Linked DNA regions of Homo sapiens: region 2 is linked to region 1. Evidence: fine-mapped expression QTL. Tissue or cell type: skeletal muscle. Region 1 holds a variant in brackets; the other region holds the start of a gene. All regions are shown on one strand. Distances are between the middles of the regions.

Evidence for each region. PIP is the estimated chance that this variant, and not a neighbour inherited with it, causes the effect.
Region 2: SLITRK4 starts here. The variant in region 1 is fine-mapped to the expression of SLITRK4 in skeletal muscle (GTEx, PIP above 0.99).

The regions. Positions count from the first base shown.
Region 1 is chrX:143,576,472-143,587,314 of GRCh38, reverse strand. No RefSeq gene overlaps it. Among named protein-coding and RNA genes, the nearest start is that of SLITRK4, 54 kb to the left of the region's middle. The variant G/A (reference allele first, on the strand shown) is at 5,828.
Region 2 is chrX:143,629,584-143,640,426 of GRCh38, reverse strand. It overlaps SLITRK4 (SLIT and NTRK like family member 4), which reads left to right and starts at 4,326. Exons shown (of 2, transcript NM_001184749.3): 1 at 4,326-4,692; 2 at 9,269-10,843. The coding sequence starts at 9,319.

The DNA of each region.
Region 1 (10,843 bases):
ATGTTGGGGCCCACAACAAATTTCCCTGTGGGAAAAAATATAAGGGAGGTATGTCGCCTTTCATCTTTGTAGCCATCTTATTTAGGAACAAAAATGGGAGGCAGGTTTGCATGACCCAGATTCCAGCTTGAATCTTCCCTTTGGCTTAGTGAGTTTGGGGTCCCAGATTTATTTTCCTTTCACACTGCCAAAGAGGTTTTCTCTGAATATTAAATAGTATTAAAGTACTTTGAGTGAGCATTCCACTCAACATAAGCTGAGGACTAAGCTCTGATTCTTTTTTTTTATTTCTATCTTTTTTATCTTGCCCAAATTCCTATCTAAGGGGTCTGGGGAGTCATACCCTACCAATGATTAACTATCATCAGATGGGTTTTATTTAACCCTATATATCATGACTTACTTTCCAATCTGACTCTGGCATAACATTATTTGACAAAGAAGAAAATCAAAATATTTTACCCAAAACATGTTTCTTTGCCGTGTTTTGAAATGGGCCTGCAAGACCATCCATTGTGGGGGAAAATTTGCATCTGTAAAAATTCTCTATTGATATAGCTAGATCTTTTTCTTCCAGGCTCTCCCAATCCTGAAGACATTAATTGAGAGTTTAGCACCTTTTAAAGGTCTGAATAGAAAAAACATTTGTCATCTATTGTCTCTAAGGGCAACCACTATGAGACTTCAAAAGAACCTTGGTCTCCACAATCTTTTATCTTAACCTGAACATTTCCTTTCCATTAATTCCAGACAAACTCAACCATTTATAAACCAGAAAATGTTTAAATTTACCTATTGCCTGGAACCCCCTCCCCACCACTCCGCTCGAATTGTCCCACCTTTCTGGACCAAACCCATGTATTTTTCAAATGTATTTGATTGATGTCTCAGAATCACTTTAGGGAATGATGTTTCATGCCTCCCTAAAATGTGTAAAACCAAGCTGCACCCCAATTCCTTTGAGCAGATATTCTTGGGACCTCCTGTGGGCTGTGTCACAGGCCATGGTCACTCATATTTGGCCTAGGATAAATCTCTTCAAATATTTTACAGAGTTTGACTCCTGTTGTTGACAAGCTATTGTTTTAGCTTTACCAAATACCTGGGTCATTGTAATTGCTCATGTATTGTAGTCAAACCTCAGTCAAAGAGAAACATGTTGATAGAAGGGAAGGAGTCTGTAAGAAATTTAGGGGAAAATGTAGAGAGAAAACCCAAGAGAAGAATAGTTCATATTTATTCAGCAGCCCGGTATATGGCTGCTTTGATCACTGCCCACAGAGATTTTCTTACCCTTGACAGGCTAGCTCGTAGGGCATCAGTCTGTCTCAGTTGAAGGACACTGTTAAAATTCTCAGTTTTTTACCTCCTGGCCAGCTTCACCCTTATCAAACGCTCCTCTATAAAACACCCCAAGAATCATTCTTATAAGGTAGAGACACAAGTTAGGGTAATTTCCTCTACAATATTTCTGCATCAATACTAGCTCTTAAGGTGCATTTAAATATTATTTGTAGTTGCCTATTTCCCACAGACTGACTGTGAGGAAGCTCACAGTAAAAATACATTGATAGAGTGGCTTAAATATCAAGAAGGCCTCAAAAACCAAAGAGAGATGGGGAAGATAATTGTACCAGGAAAAGGGAAAGATATAATTATTGTAATTAAGCACTAATTTTAGCTCCGAAGACATTAAGGTCTGAATTGCACTTACTTTTCAAACTCAGTCACTATTCTACGTTTTAATCCTTTATACAATTTTGTACCTTTATACAAGTTAGAATTATATTGGTAATTTATTCAAATCTTCTTTTATCAGCATTCTCAGTTCCCTTAAGCCCAATATTTAAATGTTTAAAATGTCACTCCCTGCTAGTGATTTTTTAAAGGAACTATTATCATTTTATGTTCAGTACACACACACACACACAGACACACACACACACACACACACGAGTTTCCTCTTTAGTATATGTCCTAGATCAATGTGTCTGGTTACTATTACTCTTGGATCTTCTCAACTCTCCTCACCCCACTACAATATCACATCTTTCCCTTCCATCACATTGAAACATCTGAAACAGCTCTCATAAGGAAAATCACAGCATACATTTTGCCAAGCCTATCTTCATCCTGCTTGAATTCAAAGCACCATTTGACATCGCTGACCATTCGCTTCTCTCCTGTCCTGGCTTCTGCTTGCATGTTTTCTTATTTTTCTTTCTACCTCATTAAAAGCATCTTACTCACTCTCTGTCATCTTTTCCAGGCCTCTAAATATGGGAGTTTCTCAGCATTCTGTTCCAGAATTATGATTCCTTATATCTCTAAGAGTAAAACACAAAGGCCTGCAAGACTCTATGCGATCTGCACCCCACTCCCTTTCTGACCAGGTAGATACATTTCTAGGTACATCAGTACTCTCCTGGATATCAATACTCAGAAATACTTGTCTCCACTTACCATCTCCATTTTCTTTCTTTCCATTTTCTCTAGAACCCACCATGATCATGTTTTCATCTGAAGCACGCCACACCACTGAACAGCTGTTGTCAAGGTCACAAGTTACTACCTAGTTGCCAATATAAAGCTTGATCTTCGGTCCTCCTCTCATCCGACCTGTCTGGAGCATTTGAAAAGTTGATCACTCTCTTCTTTGTAAAATACTGATTCACGTGGTTCTAGGACACCACTCATTCTTTTTTCTTTTCTTACCTTACTGGTCTCTCTCGTTCTGTATCTTTTGCTTACACCTTCCCCATCTTCCAGACCACTAAACATTGAAATTCCTAAGATTAGTCCTGGATCTATTTTCTTCTCTATTTATACTCATTTCCTGGGTGATCTTACCCAGTCACATGGCTATAAATATCATCTATATGCTGAAGACTTCCAGATTTTTATCTCCTCTCTGGACTTCTTACCAGAAATACAAATTCATATATTTAACTGCCAACTACACATATGCACTAATAGGCATTTCAAATGTAGTATGTCCATACCAAACTGCTAATACTTTACTCAAAAACTCGCTCCATCTACATTCTTCTCCATTTTAGCAAATGGCTGCTCCTTTATTTTTGTTCAGTTGTTCAAGCCAAATGCTTGGGAGTCAGCTTTGCCTCCCTTTTTATTCCACACCACATACCAATACTTCAGTAATTCCTGTCAGTTTCTACCTTTAAGAAATAAAAATCAAATCAAAATAACAAGAAAACTACAGCAGAATCTAATCTGGCCACTTCTCACCGTACCATCTCCATTGCTTCCACCTTGGTGCAATCATGACCTCTTGCTTGGATGACTTCCAGAGTCTTCTAACTGGCTTCTAACTAGTGTAACTAGTCTGCTAACTGGCTTCTACTCTTGCCTTTCTACAAACTACTCTCTATATAGCAAAGTGATTCTGTTAAAAAGTAAGTCAGACTATGTCACTCCTCTGTTCCAAACCATCCAAGGGAACCGCCCTCATTCAGAGAAAGAAAACAAAGTCTTTATACCAGCTTTTAAAGATTTACCTAATCCAGTCCTTTGTTTCTCTGACCTCATCTTCTATACCTCCTTCTCTTGCTCTCTTTCTTCAAGTCACACTCACCTCCTTGTTATTCGTTGAACTTGAAGGTATTAGGCATGCTACTACCTTACGATATTGTTATTTTTGCTATTTTCTCTACCTGGAATATTGTTCCCACAAATAGTCACATGTCCCACTCCCTTTCTTTCAGGTCTTAATTCAAATATCACCTTCTCAGAGAGACCTTCGCTGATGACTTTATATTAAAAGCATCCTGTCACTTTCTAACCCTATTATGCTGCTTTATATTCTTCGTAGCATTTATCATCAACTGAAATATTACATGTTTATTTGTTTATTGTCTTTCCCGCCTAACTAGAATATAAGTTTATGGAGATAGGATTGCCACTGTTTTGCTTACTGATATATCCTCAATACCTAGAATTCTCCCTGGCATATAGGAGATGCTCACTAAGTACTAGGTCAATGCATGAAACGGACTTTCTTTTCAGTCTACAGCTCTGTTCATAGATTCAAATACCTTCGACGGCACTTTGAAAACAATTCATTTTTCTCGTTAAACCATTTTAGTATTTGTTGAGCTAGGCGCTGAAGCTGCAATAAGAAAAAATAAGGTATTTCTTGCTCTCATAGAGTTAGATCAGTTTCTCACTTTCTTCTTCCCGGTTTCCTCCCCTTGCCACCACTCACACTGAAATGCAGTCCTTCTGTGTTATACACGTTAATACAATGCTATTACTCATTATGTGGCCAGCCAAGTTAAAACCAGAGTGGGTAATTTTATCTCCTTTTTCCCTATACCTTCAAATCCAGTCACTTACCCTGTCCAATCAGTTCTACCTAGTATATCTCTAAGATTTATCATTTCCATTTCACTTCTACTGGCAAATAGATTCCACTTTCTCCAGTCTCACCACGACCTTCTTAGGCTCTCATAATAATCTTCTACTTAAAAACTAGTTCAATAAATTTTCCTGCCTTCTTGCCTGTTCCCCTTCCCTCCAATCTATTTTCTACATTCCAGCCAGGGTGCTCTTTCTCAAATGCAAATACGACCAGTCTCTCCTCTGCTAACTACCCTTTGATGGTTCTCCATTGCTCACAGGACAAAATTCAAATATCTTAAAATGGTGTTTAAGACCTTAAATGATTAGGCACCTACTTACTTCTCTAGCACTATATTTTATTAGTTTTTAAGTCCAGCTCACATATGACTGTCTTTAAGCATCTTCCCAGATCTTCTTCTATTCCATTTACACCACTGGCACAACCTGATCACACTACATTAGAATGAGTAGTGTGCCCAGGAGACTGGCAGTCTTTTCAACTGGAGTGTCAGCTCTAGATACTCACTATGCAATTTCAAATACCTCCTCTGCTGAAATTGTGTTCTCTCCCTTCCCTGACCTCATTCTGTGTTTTCCCTCCTTTCTCTTAACACCTTTTATTCCAGCTAGTGCTGTACTGCTCTCCCCACTACAGACTGAAAGCTCCTGGAGGGCAGGACTGTGTGCCTCCTGCCATAGTCAGGTTTCCAACCTGTGTACCACTGGTCCTGGTGGTTTGCTCAGAGTAGTAGGTACTCAGTCAGTACTTGTCAAATGGGCAGATTGTGCCTATAAATATTTGTACTCATATTGCATTTCTGTCTTTTCCTTTTGATGATATAGTTTCATCATTTACAAGATGCTGTTATGATATTTATGTCTATTAGCCTTTCTGCTAAATAATTGCTTGGCGCTCCCTGTTTTTCTAAATTTGGTAAAAATATCATAAAAAAGCATTTGGTAAATTTCTCACAGAAAGCCAAACACTTTTATGATGTGAGAGACTTGATTTGTTGTATTTATATCAAGTCAATATTGGTTTAATCTTAAATTCACCATTCACCATCTTTTTTGTTTCTCGTTATCAAAACTCATTTTTTATGACTAATTTAATCATTGACTGAACTCACTCAACAGTTGCCCATAGTTACTAAAAGATACAAAATGATACTGTTTATAAGCATTTAGGTCAAAAATGTTCAAAAGAAAAATCAACTAAACTGATACTTTTAATTAGTATTTTGAGGGTTGAGGATTTTTAAAAATTTGTTTTTCACTGAAACTGCTTTGGTAAAAATCAGTACAAAAACAATTGATTTTTTAATTGTCTGGTTTGAAGAGACATGTTGGAGTAACAGAAACAGTCACAACCAAATGCAGCTTCTTCTGGTGGTACACTTCGTTCCATGATGTGGATCAGTTCTAAATATCATTCCAACTATTCTTAGATTCAAGTTATGATACT[G/A]TTTTGTTCTTTATATTTGGCTCTGTTTGTAACTCAACAAGTGTCTTGGGTAAGTCCCATGAGTAATAGAAACTGAGAGTAAGCTAGATCAGAAATACTGGATATGGACGATCATTATAAAATGCACATGTTGACTTCTCAAATTATGTCAAGTGACAAGGCTCTTTTTGACACATTAAAGTGATCTGCTCTCTTCAATACTTAATTTATTACTAATGAGGGACTGCAATTGCTTCAAATTAAGTAGCCTACACTTATCATAAGATCTGGCACATTTCTACTTCTGTTTTTAAAAGAATATTTGAAATTAAAAATGTAGAAAATTAGATGCATAAAAATGCATTGTCTAATCAATAACCATAATCATTACCAGCTGTCAAAATGTATCTTAAAATGTTATGAGCTAAATTATGCTGTAAAGACATGCATAATTTTTTATAGAGATTTAGCTGTATTTGTTGACCCATTGATCTCACTCCAGTACAGCATGAACCAAGGAAATAAAAGGGGAACAGAACATAATGGAAGAAAGAACACTTATCCAGGAGGCAAGAAACTCAGCTTAACCATTTATTGGCTGTCTGAATTTGGGCAAGTCACTCTCCACTGTATGTTTCCATTTTCCCACCTGTAACATGAGATGGTTGGACCTGAGCAAAGGTTTCTGACTGCCTGGTAGCCCATGCTGATTCCATGATTCAGCCCATGCTGAAAATTCAATTCAGTTCCGTTCAAGTCAGTTCAATCCAACAATCTTGAGGGACAGCTATTGAAGCAGAAGTTAAAAAGAGAAAAACAAGTTTTCCTATACTTGGCTGACTCACTCCAAGGCCAGCAATAGGCAGGGCCCTGGCAAAGTCTCAATAACACTATCTGGAAAGCCAGAGCCCAAAGGAATGAGCTCCGGAGACTCTCCCAACAAACCCCTCCCCCTCCCTGGAGCAAGGATAAGAAAAACAAATTCCTTTACTATCTCCTCTTCCCCCTTACCATTACTCAGTGTCTCAAGTTTTGTAAGTTCCTGTTTTCCCTTCCATGCAGCTGTAAGGTCACAAGCTATGCTTAGGTTACAAAACCTGTCACAGTTTGATTAACTGCCTTTGTTCTGCTTCTGTAAGCCTGCCTGCCCGCCTCACAGGTTTTGTGCCCTCAGTTTCCTGCCACTGCATTAAAACTAGCCAATTCCCTTTCAGAAGTGTATATAAAAGTCAAGCCCTGTGTTTGTTCAGGGCTCAGCCTTTGGATGTGAATCTGCTGTGCCAGTAGCCACCTAAATAAAATCCTCCTGTTCCACCCATTGGTCTCTCTGGTCTTCTGATTCCCACAACACTACAGCACCATATTATAACATAATACTGCCAAATGTAATATAATATAATATGAACATGATAAAAGTTTTTAAAATCAGATAAGAATTTGACTCAACTTACAATCTATATGATCATAAAGAAGCCAATTCAAGGGAGGTAGAGGAATATGGTGGAATAGAAAGCTTCACTGATAGTTCCCCCAGCAAGGACATCAGATTAACAGCTATCTACTCAGAAAACACACCTTTATAAGAACCAAAAATAAGGTGAGCACTCAGTACCTGGTTTTAGCTTCATATCACTGAAAGAGGCACCAAAAAGGTAGAAAAAACAGCCTTGAATTGCTGATGCCACCCCTCCTCAATCTCTGGCAGTGGAATCCTGGTACAGAGAGTATCTCTGGGCACTGGGGGAGGGAGAACACAGCAATTGTGAAGCATTGAACTCAGTGCTGCTCTGTTAGAGCAGAAAAGAAAAACCAGACCAAACTCAGCTGATGCCTGCCCACAGAGGGAGCATTCAAATCAGCCTTAGCCAGAGGGGAATTTCCAATCCCAGTGGTTCAAACTTGAGTGCCTGCAAACCTTGCCACCCAGGGCCAAAGTGCTCTTAGTCTCTAACTAAACTTGAAAGGCATTCTAGCCCATAAGCACTGCAACTCTTAGGTGAGTTCAAGGGCTTAACTAGGCCTAGAGATAATGGATTAGAAGGCCACATGACATACTGTGACACCAGCTTTGGCAGGCAAAATGTGCTGGCATCACCCCTCCCCTAATCCCAGGCTGCACAGCTCACAGCTCCAAAAAAGACCCTTTTCTTCCTCTTGAGGAGAGTAGAGAGAAGAGTGGGGAGGATCGTTTCTTGCACCTGAAATACCAGCTTAGCCACAGCAGGATATGGCACCAGTCAGAGTCAAGAGGCTCCCATTCCAGGCCCTATCAGCCAGATGATATTTATAGATATACCCTGGGCCAGAAGAGAACCTATTTGAAGAAAGGGATCCAGTCCTGCTAGCATGGGCTCTGAATAACCAGCAGTAATATCCAGGTGCTATGCTACATCAAGGGTTTTGGTGAGCCTCTGAGACTTGCTGGCTTCAAGTACCAACATCACCACAGGGGTGTAGAGCAGCAAGTCAAGACTGTTTACTCTTGAATGACATTTCTGGACCTGCCCTGTGACAGAGGGGAGTGCACTGCCCTGAAGGATGAGTCCCAGGACAGACAGCACTCACCACAAGCTGACTTAAGAGACCTTGAGACTTAAGGGAAAATCAGTGGTAGTCTGGCAGTACTCCTTGTGGCCAGGGGTGGCTCCTCTGCCTTTGGAAAAGGGAGGGAAGAGTGGGAAGGACCAAAGCAAATATGGACAAATGGGATCACGTCAAGTTAAAAAGCTTCTGCACAAAAGTTACAATCAACAAAGTGAAGAGACAACCCACAGAATGGAAGAAAATATTGGCAACTACCCTTCTGACAAGGAATTAATAACGAGAATATATAAGGAGATTAAACAGCACTATAGAAAAAAATCTAATAATCTGATCAAAAGATGGACAAAATATTTGAATAGATATTTCTCAAAAGAAGTCATACAAATGGCAAACAGACATATGAAAATGTGCTCAACATTAGCATCAGAGAAATGCAAATATAAACTACAATGAGATATCATTTCACCCCAAATGTCTTGGATATGGCTTATATCCATAAAACAGGCAATAATAAATGCTAGCAAGTATGTGGAGAAAAGGGAACTCTTGGACACTGTAGGTGGTAATGTAAATTAGTATAACAACTATGAAGAACGTTTTGTACGTTTCTAAACCAAGTGATTTGAGAATCACAATGACCAAGAGAGAAATTTCAACTTGGAGACTCAGAGGAAGACACATATATTCTTTCAGTGATCATTTACTGAACTGCATTGTGCTAAGCAGGGGTAAAGTGATGGATAAGAAGAAACACTTGCCTTTCTTCACAAAACCAATGAAGATATTTTGAAACGTTTTTATTCATTGACTCCCGTTAAAAAGCTGATGAAAAGAAAAGATTCTATCCCTAAAAATATGGGCACATGATTTTGCATTTAAGTGTAAAGAGTTCAAGAACTCTTTGGAAATTTATTCTTACATCCCCCAGGCACATGGACTCCAGATTCAAACCTCCTAATTTAGTTGGGGGTTTTATTTAAAAAGGTAGCATTTGAATAAAGTCCTGAAAAATGGTTCGAATTTCAGATGGGAGCAAAGAACAGTGTTCTTGGACTTTGAACCTGTGATGGTTATTATTAAGTGTCAACTTGATTGTATTAAAGGATGCAAAGTATTGTTCCTGGGTGTGTCTGTGAGGGTGGTGCCAAAGGAGATTAACATTTGAGTCAGTGAACTGCTAGAGGTGGACCCACCCTCAATCTGGGTGGGCACCTTCTAATCAGTTGCCAACATGGCTAGGATAAAAGCAACAATACGTGGAAAGACTAGACTAGCTACGTCTTCTGGCCTCCATCTTTCTCCTGTGCTGGATGCTTCCTGCCCTCGAACATTGGACTTCCAAGTTCTTCAACTTTTGGACTCTTGGACCTATACCAGTGGTTTGCCAGGGGCTCTCGGGCCTTTGGCCACAGACTGAATGCTGCACTGTCGGCTTCCCTACTTTTGAGGTTTGGAACTCAGACTGGCTTCCTTGCTCCTCAGCTTGCAGACTACCTATTGTGGGACTTCACCTTACGATCGCGTGAGTCAATATTCCTTAATAAACTCCCTTTCATATAGCCATCTATCTTATTAGTCCTGTCCCTCTAAAGAACCCTGACTAATACAGAACCCATCTTTTCCAGTCTCCTGGCTCATACTGACCACTTGCTTTTGCACGTTTGTTGCCTTGGGACAAAGTGCCTCATTTCTTTTCTTGACATTATCCATGTGTTCCTTGAATTCCGCCTGCTTGCCTGTCTTCTGAATCCAGCTCTTTAGCAACCTCAGGCCTCTGTGCTATCCTAGTCTGCCACCCTCCATCTATGCATCAATGCCCTCATATCTAGTTCCTACTTTTCATTGCTAACAAAGTCTTTGGTCTCCCATTCTAACTCCTATGTTGGCTCTATGATGCACTGCCAACAAATGGCCCAGTGGTACAAGTGAACATAGAGGGAAGAGGTATGTATGAGCAGAAGACCTCTCTCAGATCCAAAGCCTATTCTTAAAAAGCCAGCCTGACCTATCAGTTCTGCTTTTGCACTGCCCCAGGTGTTGATCTCTTATGTCTGTATAGGACTTTATGGCTCACGGAGTAGTAGACTAACTACAGTCACAAATAAATCCCAAATCTCAGTGTGTTAACCCAATAAAGATTAGCATTTTGCTCATGCTTCCGTCCGATGCAGGTAGGCAGAGAGGGGGCTCAGCTCCAAGCATCATTTGGGTGCAAGTCTGACCACGTTCCACACATGGCTCCCAAGACTGCTCTGGGAATTGACATTGAGATGGCAAACAGGGAAGAGAGTCAGTAGCAAGGAAAGTCTGGCAGGAACTAAAACACATCCCATTTCACTGGCCAGAACACAACTATGTGGCCTTTCTAATTGCAGTGGGGAGGCTAGGAAAGGCAGCCTAGCTGTGTGCTCAAGGGGAAAGTGAAAAGATGTTAACACATATCAACTCTGCCACGCATGGCCACTACCATGTTTTGTGTGTGTGTGTATGTGT
Region 2 (10,843 bases), 53 kb before region 1:
AATCTATCCCTTTCTCTTTTTTTGAGACAGGGTCACTCTGTCGCTCAGGCTAGAGTGCAGTGGCTTGATGATGGCTCACTGCAGCCTTGACCTCCTAAGCTTGAGCGATCCTCCCACCTCAGCCTCCCTAGTACCTGGGACTACAGGTGCACCCCACGATGCCTGGCTATTTTTTTAAATTTATTTTTTAAAGAGATGGCTTTTCACCTTGCTGCCCAGACTGTTTGTCTTGGCATCCCAATGTGCTGAGAATACAGGCGTTAAGTCACCCTGCCCAGCTTTCAAGTCTATTCTGCTTTCAAAGTTAAAAATTCCCTAATCCCCCTGTGAAAACGAAAATGTGGTGTACTGGAAAAACCTCAAAGATCTGGGGTCAAATCTTGACCATCACTTACTCACCATGTGACCTCGGGCAAACTGTTTACCTTCCCTGAATTTTATTTTATTTTATTTTATTTTATTTTATTTTATTTTATTTTGAGAGAGTCTCAGTCTGTTGGCTGGGCTGCAGCGCAGTGGCATGGCCACAGCTGATGGCAGCCTTGACCTCCTGGGCTCAAGTGATCCTCCCGCCTCAGCCTTCCAAGCAGCTGGGGCTACAAGCATGTGCCACCATGCACCACTGATTTTTGTATTTGTTGTAGAGACGATTTTTCCCATGTTGCCCAGGCTGGTTTTGAAATCCTGGGCTCAAGTGATCTCCCCACCTCAGCCTCCCAAAGTGCTGGGATTACAGGAATGGGCCACCATGCCTGGTCACTTAACCTCATTTTTAAAATAAGTATGATAATCCCTTCCTTGTTCATAGAACTAAATGAAATAATATTTGTAGGCAGCACAGCAAAGAAGAGGCACTCAACAGACAGTAGCTACTATTGAATGGGTTAATTATGATCTGAAAACTTCCTTTCATGTTCTAAATTCCAGAAAATTTGTAAAAATGGGCTATTAGTATGTTTTTCAAATTATATAGATAGAAAAAAGGGTTCCATTGTTAAGTAAGTCTGTGAAATGCCACATGCCATATCCCTTTTCCCTTGGTAAATAAAAGCTCATTTAAACATAATTAATTGTGTTGAAAAATCCCAAAGTAAAAATAAAATGTTTAGCTTTACGGAACCAAGGGTCTTTTAAACTTATTTGATCATGGAAACATTTCTTCCCAGAAGATATATTAACATCCTAAGAACTTTCTTGTATTCCACTTAGAGAAATAGCAAGTGTGTGACCGGACACGGTGGCACACGCCTGTAATCCCAGAACTTTAGGAGGCCGAGATGGGCGGATCACCTGAGGTCAGAAGATTGAGAACAGCCTGGACAACATGGTGAAACTCCATCTCTACTAAAAATACAAAAATTAACCGGGCATGGTGGCACATGCCTGTAATCCCAGCCACTCAGGTGGCTGAGGGAGGAGAATTGCTTGAACCCAGGAGGCAGAGGTTGCAGTGAGCCGAGATCACACTAACGCACTCCAGCCTGGGTGACAGAGTGAGACTCTGTCTCAAAAATAAATAAATAAAAATGAAAGAGAAATAGCAAGTTTGTAACTGTTAAAATGCCAGAATATAAATAAATCTTCAATATTAAAATACACTGAATCATCTGTGATACCTGGATACGAAAATTAAGGCTGATTTGATTTTGAGCAGCAGCCTAAGACAAGGCAAGATAAATGAGGAATACAGTGAAAGTGAAAGACCGCTGACTAGGGCCAAGACTTGGCATTATAATCACTTTCGGTTGGTAGTGTTTTAATGACTTAATTCCAAACTGCCTTCGGAACGGAGGGTATACAGGATCTTGTTGAAATTCTTAGTGCAGTTGTTTTTTTCCCTGATGGAGGGAGACACAGTATATCAGTGTAGACCTACGATTCTGGTTGTACTCCTAAAAAGTCAAGATGAAATAAGGTAAAACATTTGGAGGAAGACCGTGAGAGTATTGCAAAACTCACAATATTTGCATGCTTACATTTTAGGAAGAACATCAATTTTGTTTTTCTTTCAATGGCCATAAATAGTGCTGGAGTTTTCTTAACACTTTTATTTATGTATATATTCACTTCCTTTGTTAAGCTAGCAATTCTGTGTCATTTCCTACTGTTCTATTGGGATGTCACCTGTAGTTCTAGGGGACGGAAAAGGGACTGTGGGACTAAAGGATTGGGTTAATTACTTTGAAAGCAAAATAAGCATAAAACATGGAAGTTGTTACTTCTGTTTTATTTTATGAGTGTCCACTTTATCTTTTTAAGTAGCAAAACATTTTATTTTAAAGCATTCATTTAAAAAAGTTGAATATTAATCACAGATAAGTTCTTAGGAATATTATGAATTGTAATTTATCGATGATCTAGCTACAGTGGCTTTCAGATTTGTCTCCATATCCATATGAAAAATAACATTTCACAGTTATTGCAGTTAAATATAGCCAAGTCTCAGAACAGTTTCTAAAGTTGAATAAAGATAGGCATTTAAATCATCTGATATTTACTGTCCAAATCTGGCCTTTTCAGTTATCACATTACTTAGAATTTTCAGGTAAACTTTTTTTGCTCATTCTATTGACTCTTGTTAACATTTGTAGTAAAAGACAAACATTTCACCTATCTGGATAAAATATATTCAGCTTCCTGAATTGTTAGCATTTAGAATAAATGCCAACTTGTTTTGATACCCATTACTACTTTCAAACTGCATTACACAATAAAATGCAAATGTGAGTTATTAATTAGCAGGATCTGTTTTGTCCAAGTGTGCAAGAGTAGAGGGATTTTTCAACATTCTGCAGCTGTTACCTATGAAGGAAACATCATTCACTTTGCTAAAAGGAGCTGCACAATTACATACGCTGTTATAGACAAATATTTTAGTGTTTCCTTAATGCTATTTCATAATGGATTTCACATTGAATAAGATAAATTTTACCAATGCTGCCCAATTTCTGTCTCTAGGTTGTTTGTAAAAGAGAGGATGATTACAGTTTTCAAGGCAATGTGGAGTGAAGGTAGAGAAAGAGTTCTTCATGAACGACACAATATTTAGCAAGGTCATAAAGAAATATGCCCATACACGCATATCTATTTAAGTATTCATTTACATATTGTACGTGCATCTCTGTATACATGTTGTGCCCGGTGAACATTTGTGTGAATATAACCTGACGGAAGTCCCATAAAATGACAAAAAATGAAAAACAATGAAACATGTATATGAATGACTACTATAGATGATACAGAAGGTAGACCATTATTCACAAATAATGTAATAAATCCTTTGCCCATCAGATGTTTCTACCTAGATTTGGGGCCTTTAAACATCAACCAATTATGGTAAATGTTTAACTGTAGGAGTTCAGGCAGACAGCCAAATTCTGGTTTCAAAGCTGTTGCTAGTTTTAGCTTAAAGATTTTTTTTTTCATTTTTAAGCAAGAACATTTCTGGATACCGGTTGTGCTCTATTGTGGCTAGAGCCGCTGGGATTTGAATAAGTAAATTGGGCAACACACTGGTCCTGAAGAAATGGGCCTGGCAGTATTACCTGAATGTGGCAAATAATAGGCTACCAAGAGTCCTAGGGAAATACTTCCCATTTATAACTTAGCTCTACTTACCTAAAGCTAGTTTATTCCCACAGACACGAAGAGAGAGAGAGTTGTTTTTCTTAGCCAAGCTCCTACAAAAAACAGCAAGGTTGGGGGATGGGAGCACATCCAATGTTTATGCCTTTTGTTTAGGAAAGCCAGGTATCTGAAATACATACATGATAGCCAACTCCTCTCTGCTCCCCTCCCCCAGGTTTATTTATTTTCTTAACAAGCTTATTAACGAAATTATCAATTTGCATGAAACTGGTTTGAACATTGGCCCTTCCTCAGAATATTTCTTATCTCTTGTGGAAGCACTAACAAAAAGGGTAGAAGAAGGGGCCTAGACAATCCACACGTTGGATTTGCAGCCACTGGATATTTCAGATTCAGCTGCTAAAGCCTCTTTGGTATACACAATGAGGGGCGACTGAAGTGACTTTTCTTAGTCCATTTCCTCTCCTTCTCCCCGTCTCCCGAAGGTACTCCGTGGGTCCCTTCCCTTTCTCTCTTCACAGTCCCTCCTGAGCAGTCCCAAAGCTTCAAACCTTGTTCTCCAACCCCCTTTCCCTAATGTCTCCCAACTACCACCCCCTTCCCCAGTCAAACTCCCCTCCCGGTCACCACCAAAGCCCGGAGAAGTGGAATGCACACAATGCCTCCCTTATAGGGCTTGAGCTGGGAACTGGGCATGCTCAGTAGCCAAAGTAGTTTTTTTTTTTTTTTTTCTTTTGGTCGCAAGTGCGGCATCTCTCCCAGTCCCACGCCTCTCTTTCCTCAACCCCTATCCCCTATCCCCTATCCCCACCCCCAGCTCCAAGATCATCCGGCTTAACCCATTCTGCACCAAAGGCCCACGGAGTTCTAAGGTGCGGATAATTAACCCGTCTCCTTCTAACCCGGCTAAATAGTCTCACTTTAGGCTAAAGCCTCACACTTTCGCCTTAAAGCCCCTGGCCCCTTACGCGCAGACAGGTAGGGGGAGTGCGAATACTACTGGATCCTAGGAAATTGGTTCCCAAGAAGGCTCCTTCCAGGATCGACCGCCACGGAGAAGTATTCCAGGAGCCCTCCGTTCTGCGGGGTGACAATTAGCCAAAGGTACCGTACCCGTGATACAAAATCCAAGTATGATTGTTGCATTTGAATGTCATTGTTGTTGACTCATTCCCCTCCATCCTGTAATTATTCAATTCCGCGTAGACTCGACGACCCTATCGATCTCCCTCGGCCCCCCTCCCCCAGGCTCTCCAGTGTTTCTTTGGCTTTTCCTGGCTTCTTGGTTGCTCTCTCAAAGGAATGCCCCGTGTGTGTGTGTGTGTGTGTGTGTGTGTGTGTGTGTGTGTGTGTGTGTTCCTTCGTTATTAGGGGACTGGAAGAGAAGAAAAGGGCTCGAGTGTGTGTGTATGTGGTGGGGGGGATGGAGGCGAGTGCGCCCTTGTTAGAGGACTGGGGTCTCCACGCCTGAGGAAAGGGGTCGCTCCTCCCTAGGGAATGTTTTAGGCAAAAAGAGGGGGCGGATGCCGGGAGGAAAGCGCGCTGTCTTTCTGGGTGTGTGGGTAGAAGAGGAATCAAATGGGCATGTCTGGATGGGGGACGGGGGTAGGAGCTCAGGAATGTGAGGGGGTCAAAGTGGTCGAGTGTCGGGAGGAAGGACTGCTTGTGTGCGGGGTGGGGGGGGGTGGTGGAGAGCGGGGGCGGGGATTCAGCGCGTGTATGTAAAGGTGCAGCCCGTGTGCTAGGCGCTGGGTGCGCGCGCGGTGTCTGCTCGGGTGCGCGCGCGCGCCGCTGCCCGCCTGCCCGCCGGCCCGCCTGCTCGCCTGCTGGGGCTGCTCCGTGGGTTTGACGGGCGAGCGGGCGCGGAGGAGCTCTGTCCGGAATCACATAGATACCATCGTGGAAACAGCAGCGCAGGTCACGGCGCCGCGGGCCCTGCACCAGACGCTGGGCTCTAGAGGTGGGTGAATTTTCAGCGGGGGCTGCACAAGCTGCACCGACACGCGTGCTGCCTCTTCCCCGCTCAGCTCAGTAGCGCGTGTGCGTGCGTGTGTGTGTGTGAGAGAGAGACAGAGAGAGAGAGAGAGATCTCGCGCGCGCGCACGCGAGCCGAGGGGGCAGGTAGCTTATTATTTTTAGTTTGGGTCCTGTTGGTTTGGGGCCGGTTGAGTGGCCAAAGTGGCCGAGGTGGCTAATCCTGCCCTCCACCTCCCACTTGCCTGCCTACGACGCGGTCTCATGCCGCTGAGGACCGGAAAGGATCCGGGTGTCCTTGGCATCGCTGCCCGCCCCCCCCCCCACCATACCCCAAGCGGCCAGGGCGGCGGGGCAAGTTGTACAGGTCTCGGGTGGCTCCGGCTGTCGGGCCGCTGGGCTGGGTTGGGCTTTATTTTTGCACCCCACTCGCAGCCACTTTCCGCAGACGTGGATCTGAGGCTCGGGGCAGTGGCCCGCGGGTTGGTCGGAGATTGCTAGCGCTCGGCAAGACTAGGAATACCAGAGGAAGAGCCGGTGGGTAACTCTAAAAGCTCTGCAAAGCCAGGCGAGCGCTGCCAGCGCGACTTTGCAAGGGGCCTAAATGTTGAGCTGATTTCTGGCATGGTGAGAGCAGGATTTTTGTAGCTGGCCAGGGAGGGAGAACAGGCAAGGGGGAGCCTGGGCCGCCGCTCGCAGCCACAAAACCACAGGGTCACTCTGCCCGTGGCAAGCAGGTCAGTGACTCCCTAGTGCCAACGTCTTCGAGGCGGCCTGATCTGGCCTCTCTTCCTCCTCACCCACCGCACGCCTGGGTCTAGAGAGGTCCACTGAAACTCCGGCAGCTGCCCCTTGTGGGACGGGAGCGCGCGGAGAAATGTGTGAGCGGCGGGACTGAAGGCCCCCGCGACATCCCGCGCGGTACCCCGCCTCCGCTACACGGACCGCCAGGCTGCTGCTTGGGCCCCTGACGCGGAGGGGGCTGAGCGGCCGGCTCCGGGAACAGGGATGCGGCAAAACATTGCGGTACGCGCTAGCAGCCCCTCCAGCCTCCTCGCCGCCCGCCCGAGGTAGCGCACCCGGGCGGCAATGGCCGGGTCTCTCCGCGAACCTCTTCCACCTCCATCCGAGCCTTAGGCGGGCCAGCGGGGTTTCCCGAGGGAGCTCTCGGGGAGCCACCTCGGCCCACCGCCCTGAAGCCCATCAGTGTTCTGCCCCCCTCAGGCCGCTTCTCTCCTCCCAGTCGCGGAGTGCCAGGCGCTGCACTCCGGTGGATGCAGGATTTGTTTTTGGTCGGGCTAGGTTTGTTCAGTCCTGGCTGGTCGTGAGAGCCAAGGGTCTTTCAGGGCACCGAGAGGAAGACGGACAGCTCCCAGCAGCCACAGAGAAGGCTCTTGGTACCCAGCTGGTACTTTGTGGGCTTTTTCTTTTCTTTTTTGCGTTTTTCCCTTGATGTTTAAATGTGCATGTTTCAGTGGTACCACCGGAGTGTGAGGCTTTATTCGCATACATTCAGTGCTCCCTTTACCCTCTTTGTAGCTCCCTTCTCCGAGTTCTTTTTCTTCCTTTCTCCACATTTCCATGGTCTCTTGCCCTTTCAGTACCTCTTTTCCTCTCTCCTTGGTGGACCAACTGGACTCTTTCTCTCTCTTGCCTGCCCCTCCAGCTGCTTGTGGCTTCCTCTGTTTCACAAGAGCTGCATTTGGGAACTTCCTGGCTCTTACTAGTGCCTTTTCCCCCCCTTGCTACTTAAAGTAGCAATCACCAGGAGGAGGGCAGCTCCTTATGCATTTTCAGATGTGTTGAGATTCCTGGTTCTTGTTTTTGTACTGAATTCGGATTATAAGGATTTTTTTTTTTCTGCGTTTGGTTTTTAGTTTGGTTGCTTTTGGGTTTCTTTGTTTTGAGGTGGGTGGGGTGGTGGTTTAGTAACAAGAAATGACTCAACTGAACCAAAATAGCTGTTGAAAACCACATTCATAACAAGGCAAAAAATATCAAGTGAAATTTTGATTTTACAATGAAAGTTGCTTTAGGTGATGTCATAGTTAAGAATTATGACTTCTTTTTGCAATGCCAATCATGCTCTCATGGTGAATAGGGGAAATGCACGTCTATATGGCAGCCAAATAGCATCTCAGCAGTGCTGGCTGTATTCTGAACCAAACTACTTAAAATGCAAATCCTCCTGGGTCATGGCTAATGGGTTGTCTACCTTGAGACATGTTCGGTTTTACCACTAGCTGATTCCTCGTGGGTAAAATAAACAAAGGAGTTTCTGTGCGACACTTCTTTCTTTGCATCATTTCCTTGTTGTGTGTTCCTGGGTATTTTATGTATTTAATTAATATTTGGAGATAACGATATTGAAATTGCACCCAGCTTCCCATTCACAATGGAAAAGACTAATATTGCTAAAATAGTATCAATAAAATGCACTCTGCTTGTGTTGTTTAATCTTTTCCAGGAAGCATCGTGTATGTTTGTGTATATATGCAGTATTTAAGGACCTGAAAACGATGAGTTATTTTGCTAAGCATTAAACTCTACCAACAAGTGATTCTTTATGCGTTTACAGTCAGGGACATGGGGTGGTAATATTAGGAAGGGCGGGTGGGTGTTTGGAACTGATGATTTTAGGACGAAAAATGTGCTGTACTGAACATATTTGGTGCTGTAGCAAAAGCTACTCAAAGATTGTGTTGTGTGAACTCCCCTTCCTCAGCAGTTGCAGTCTGTGGTCAAAGTGAAAGAGATAAAGCAGTTAAGCCGAGGATCAGTCGGACCTGGGTTCAAAATGGTAAATAAAGATGTGGGAGAGGGCCAGGGAGGCAAGAGAGCCAGTTCTCAAAGTGGAAAGACTGCCTGGAGATTAGCTAAGCAATGCAGGAGTAAGCAGGTTACTCTGCTGCTTTCAGAGGCTCCAAGACAAAAGGCTTTTTGCTCCCTCTTTGGGAGATGACTGACAGGAAATTAGAGACTGTTTATTTACCAGAAAATAAAATTTGGCCATCCCTTACTCAGTTGTTTTTCTAGAACCGCACAGCGTCGTCTGTGTCTTTGAAGGCAGCAGTGTACAGGAGTAAACCGATTGACAGCAATGAACTTACCTATGGGGCTACAGCACAAGCAAATCTCTTCCCAGGTCACTGTTCCTTAGTCTTTTAACAGTCCCTGCTACAGCAGCCCAATCCTCCCATTTCCATCCTCCAGTGAACTCTGGGCTCTAATGTTTTTGTTTTTGTTTTTTTAATTCAGCCTCTCTATCTAGCTGAAGCTTAGAGAATAGATATCCACTAATCAAAATGGCTTTGTGGTACAAACTCGATGGCATACTTGATGGTCTCGGTCATTTGAAGTGCAAGTAGGAAGCTTAAGGCCTGTGTTCAAGGGCAGAGTTTGACGGTCCACGTGGAAAAAATATTTTCAGATTGCAAGATTTAAGCATGATTGATAATATATTTTCCTACTGTTAGTTGTGTGTTCTGCACATGTGAATTTGGTATAAACCACAGGTATGGAAAATAAAATGTATGGCAGTTTTAGTGGTTATTATTGTTCGACTGAGTGAGACTATTTGGAGGTTTGATTGCCTTACAAATACAACTCTGGTAATTATAGCCATGTGTTCACTATGGTATGATTTACATACAAGTAATTTTTCAAGTAATGACCATTGAAAAAATGTTTTCTTTTTATTTTTTAGATTATTTCTCTTTATTCAGAAGCATACAGTTGTTTGCTGATTGCAAGAAGATGTTTCTGTGGCTGTTTCTGATTTTGTCAGCCCTGATTTCTTCGACAAATGCAGATTCTGACATATCGGTGGAAATTTGCAATGTGTGTTCCTGCGTGTCAGTTGAGAATGTGCTCTATGTCAACTGTGAGAAGGTTTCAGTCTACAGACCAAATCAGCTGAAACCACCTTGGTCTAATTTTTATCACCTCAATTTCCAAAATAATTTTTTAAATATTCTGTATCCAAATACATTCTTGAATTTTTCACATGCAGTCTCCCTGCATCTGGGGAATAATAAACTGCAGAACATTGAGGGAGGAGCCTTTCTTGGGCTCAGTGCATTAAAGCAGTTGCACTTGAACAACAATGAATTAAAGATTCTCCGAGCTGACACTTTCCTTGGCATAGAGAACTTGGAGTATCTCCAGGCTGACTACAATTTAATCAAGTATATTGAACGAGGAGCCTTCAATAAGCTCCACAAACTGAAAGTTCTCATTCTTAATGACAATCTGATTTCATTCCTTCCTGATAATATTTTCCGATTCGCATCTTTGACCCATCTGGATATACGAGGGAACAGAATCCAGAAGCTCCCTTATATCGGGGTTCTGGAACACATTGGCCGTGTCGTTGAATTGCAACTGGAAGATAACCCTTGGAACTGTAGCTGTGATTTATTGCCCTTAAAAGCTTGGCTGGAGAACATGCCATATAACATTTACATAGGAGAAGCTATCTGTGAAACTCCCAGTGACTTATATGGAAGGCTTTTAAAAGAAACCAACAAACAAGAGCTATGTCCCATGGGCACCGGCAGTGATTTTGACGTGCGCATCCTGCCTCCATCTCAGCTGGAAAATGGCTACACCACTCCCAATGGTCACACTACCCAAACATCTTTACACAGATTAGTAACTAAACCACCAAAAACAACAAATCCTTCCAAGATCTCTGGAATCGTTGCAGGCAAAGCCCTCTCCAACCGCAATCTCAGTCAGATTGTGTCTTACCAAACAAGGGTGCCTCCTCTAACACCTTGCCCGGCACCTTGCTTCTGCAAAACACACCCTTCAGATTTGGGACTAAGTGTGAACTGCCAAGAGAAAAATATACAGTCTATGTCTGAACTGATACCGAAACCTTTAAATGCGAAGAAGCTGCACGTCAATGGCAATAGCATCAAGGATGTGGACGTATCAGACTTCACTGACTTTGAAGGACTGGATTTGCTTCATTTAGGCAGCAATCAAATTACAGTGATTAAGGGAGACGTATTTCACAATCTCACTAATTTACGCAGGCTATATCTCAATGGCAATCAAATTGAGAGACTCTATCCTGAAATATTTTCAGGTCTTCATAACCTGCAGTATCTGTATTTGGAATACAATTTGATTAAGGAAATCTCAGCAGGCACCTTTGACTCCATGCCAAATTTGCAGTTACTGTACTTAAACAATAATCTCCTAAAGAGCCTGCCTGTTTACATCTTTTCCGGAGCACCCTTAGCTAGACTGAACCTGAGGAACAACAAATTCA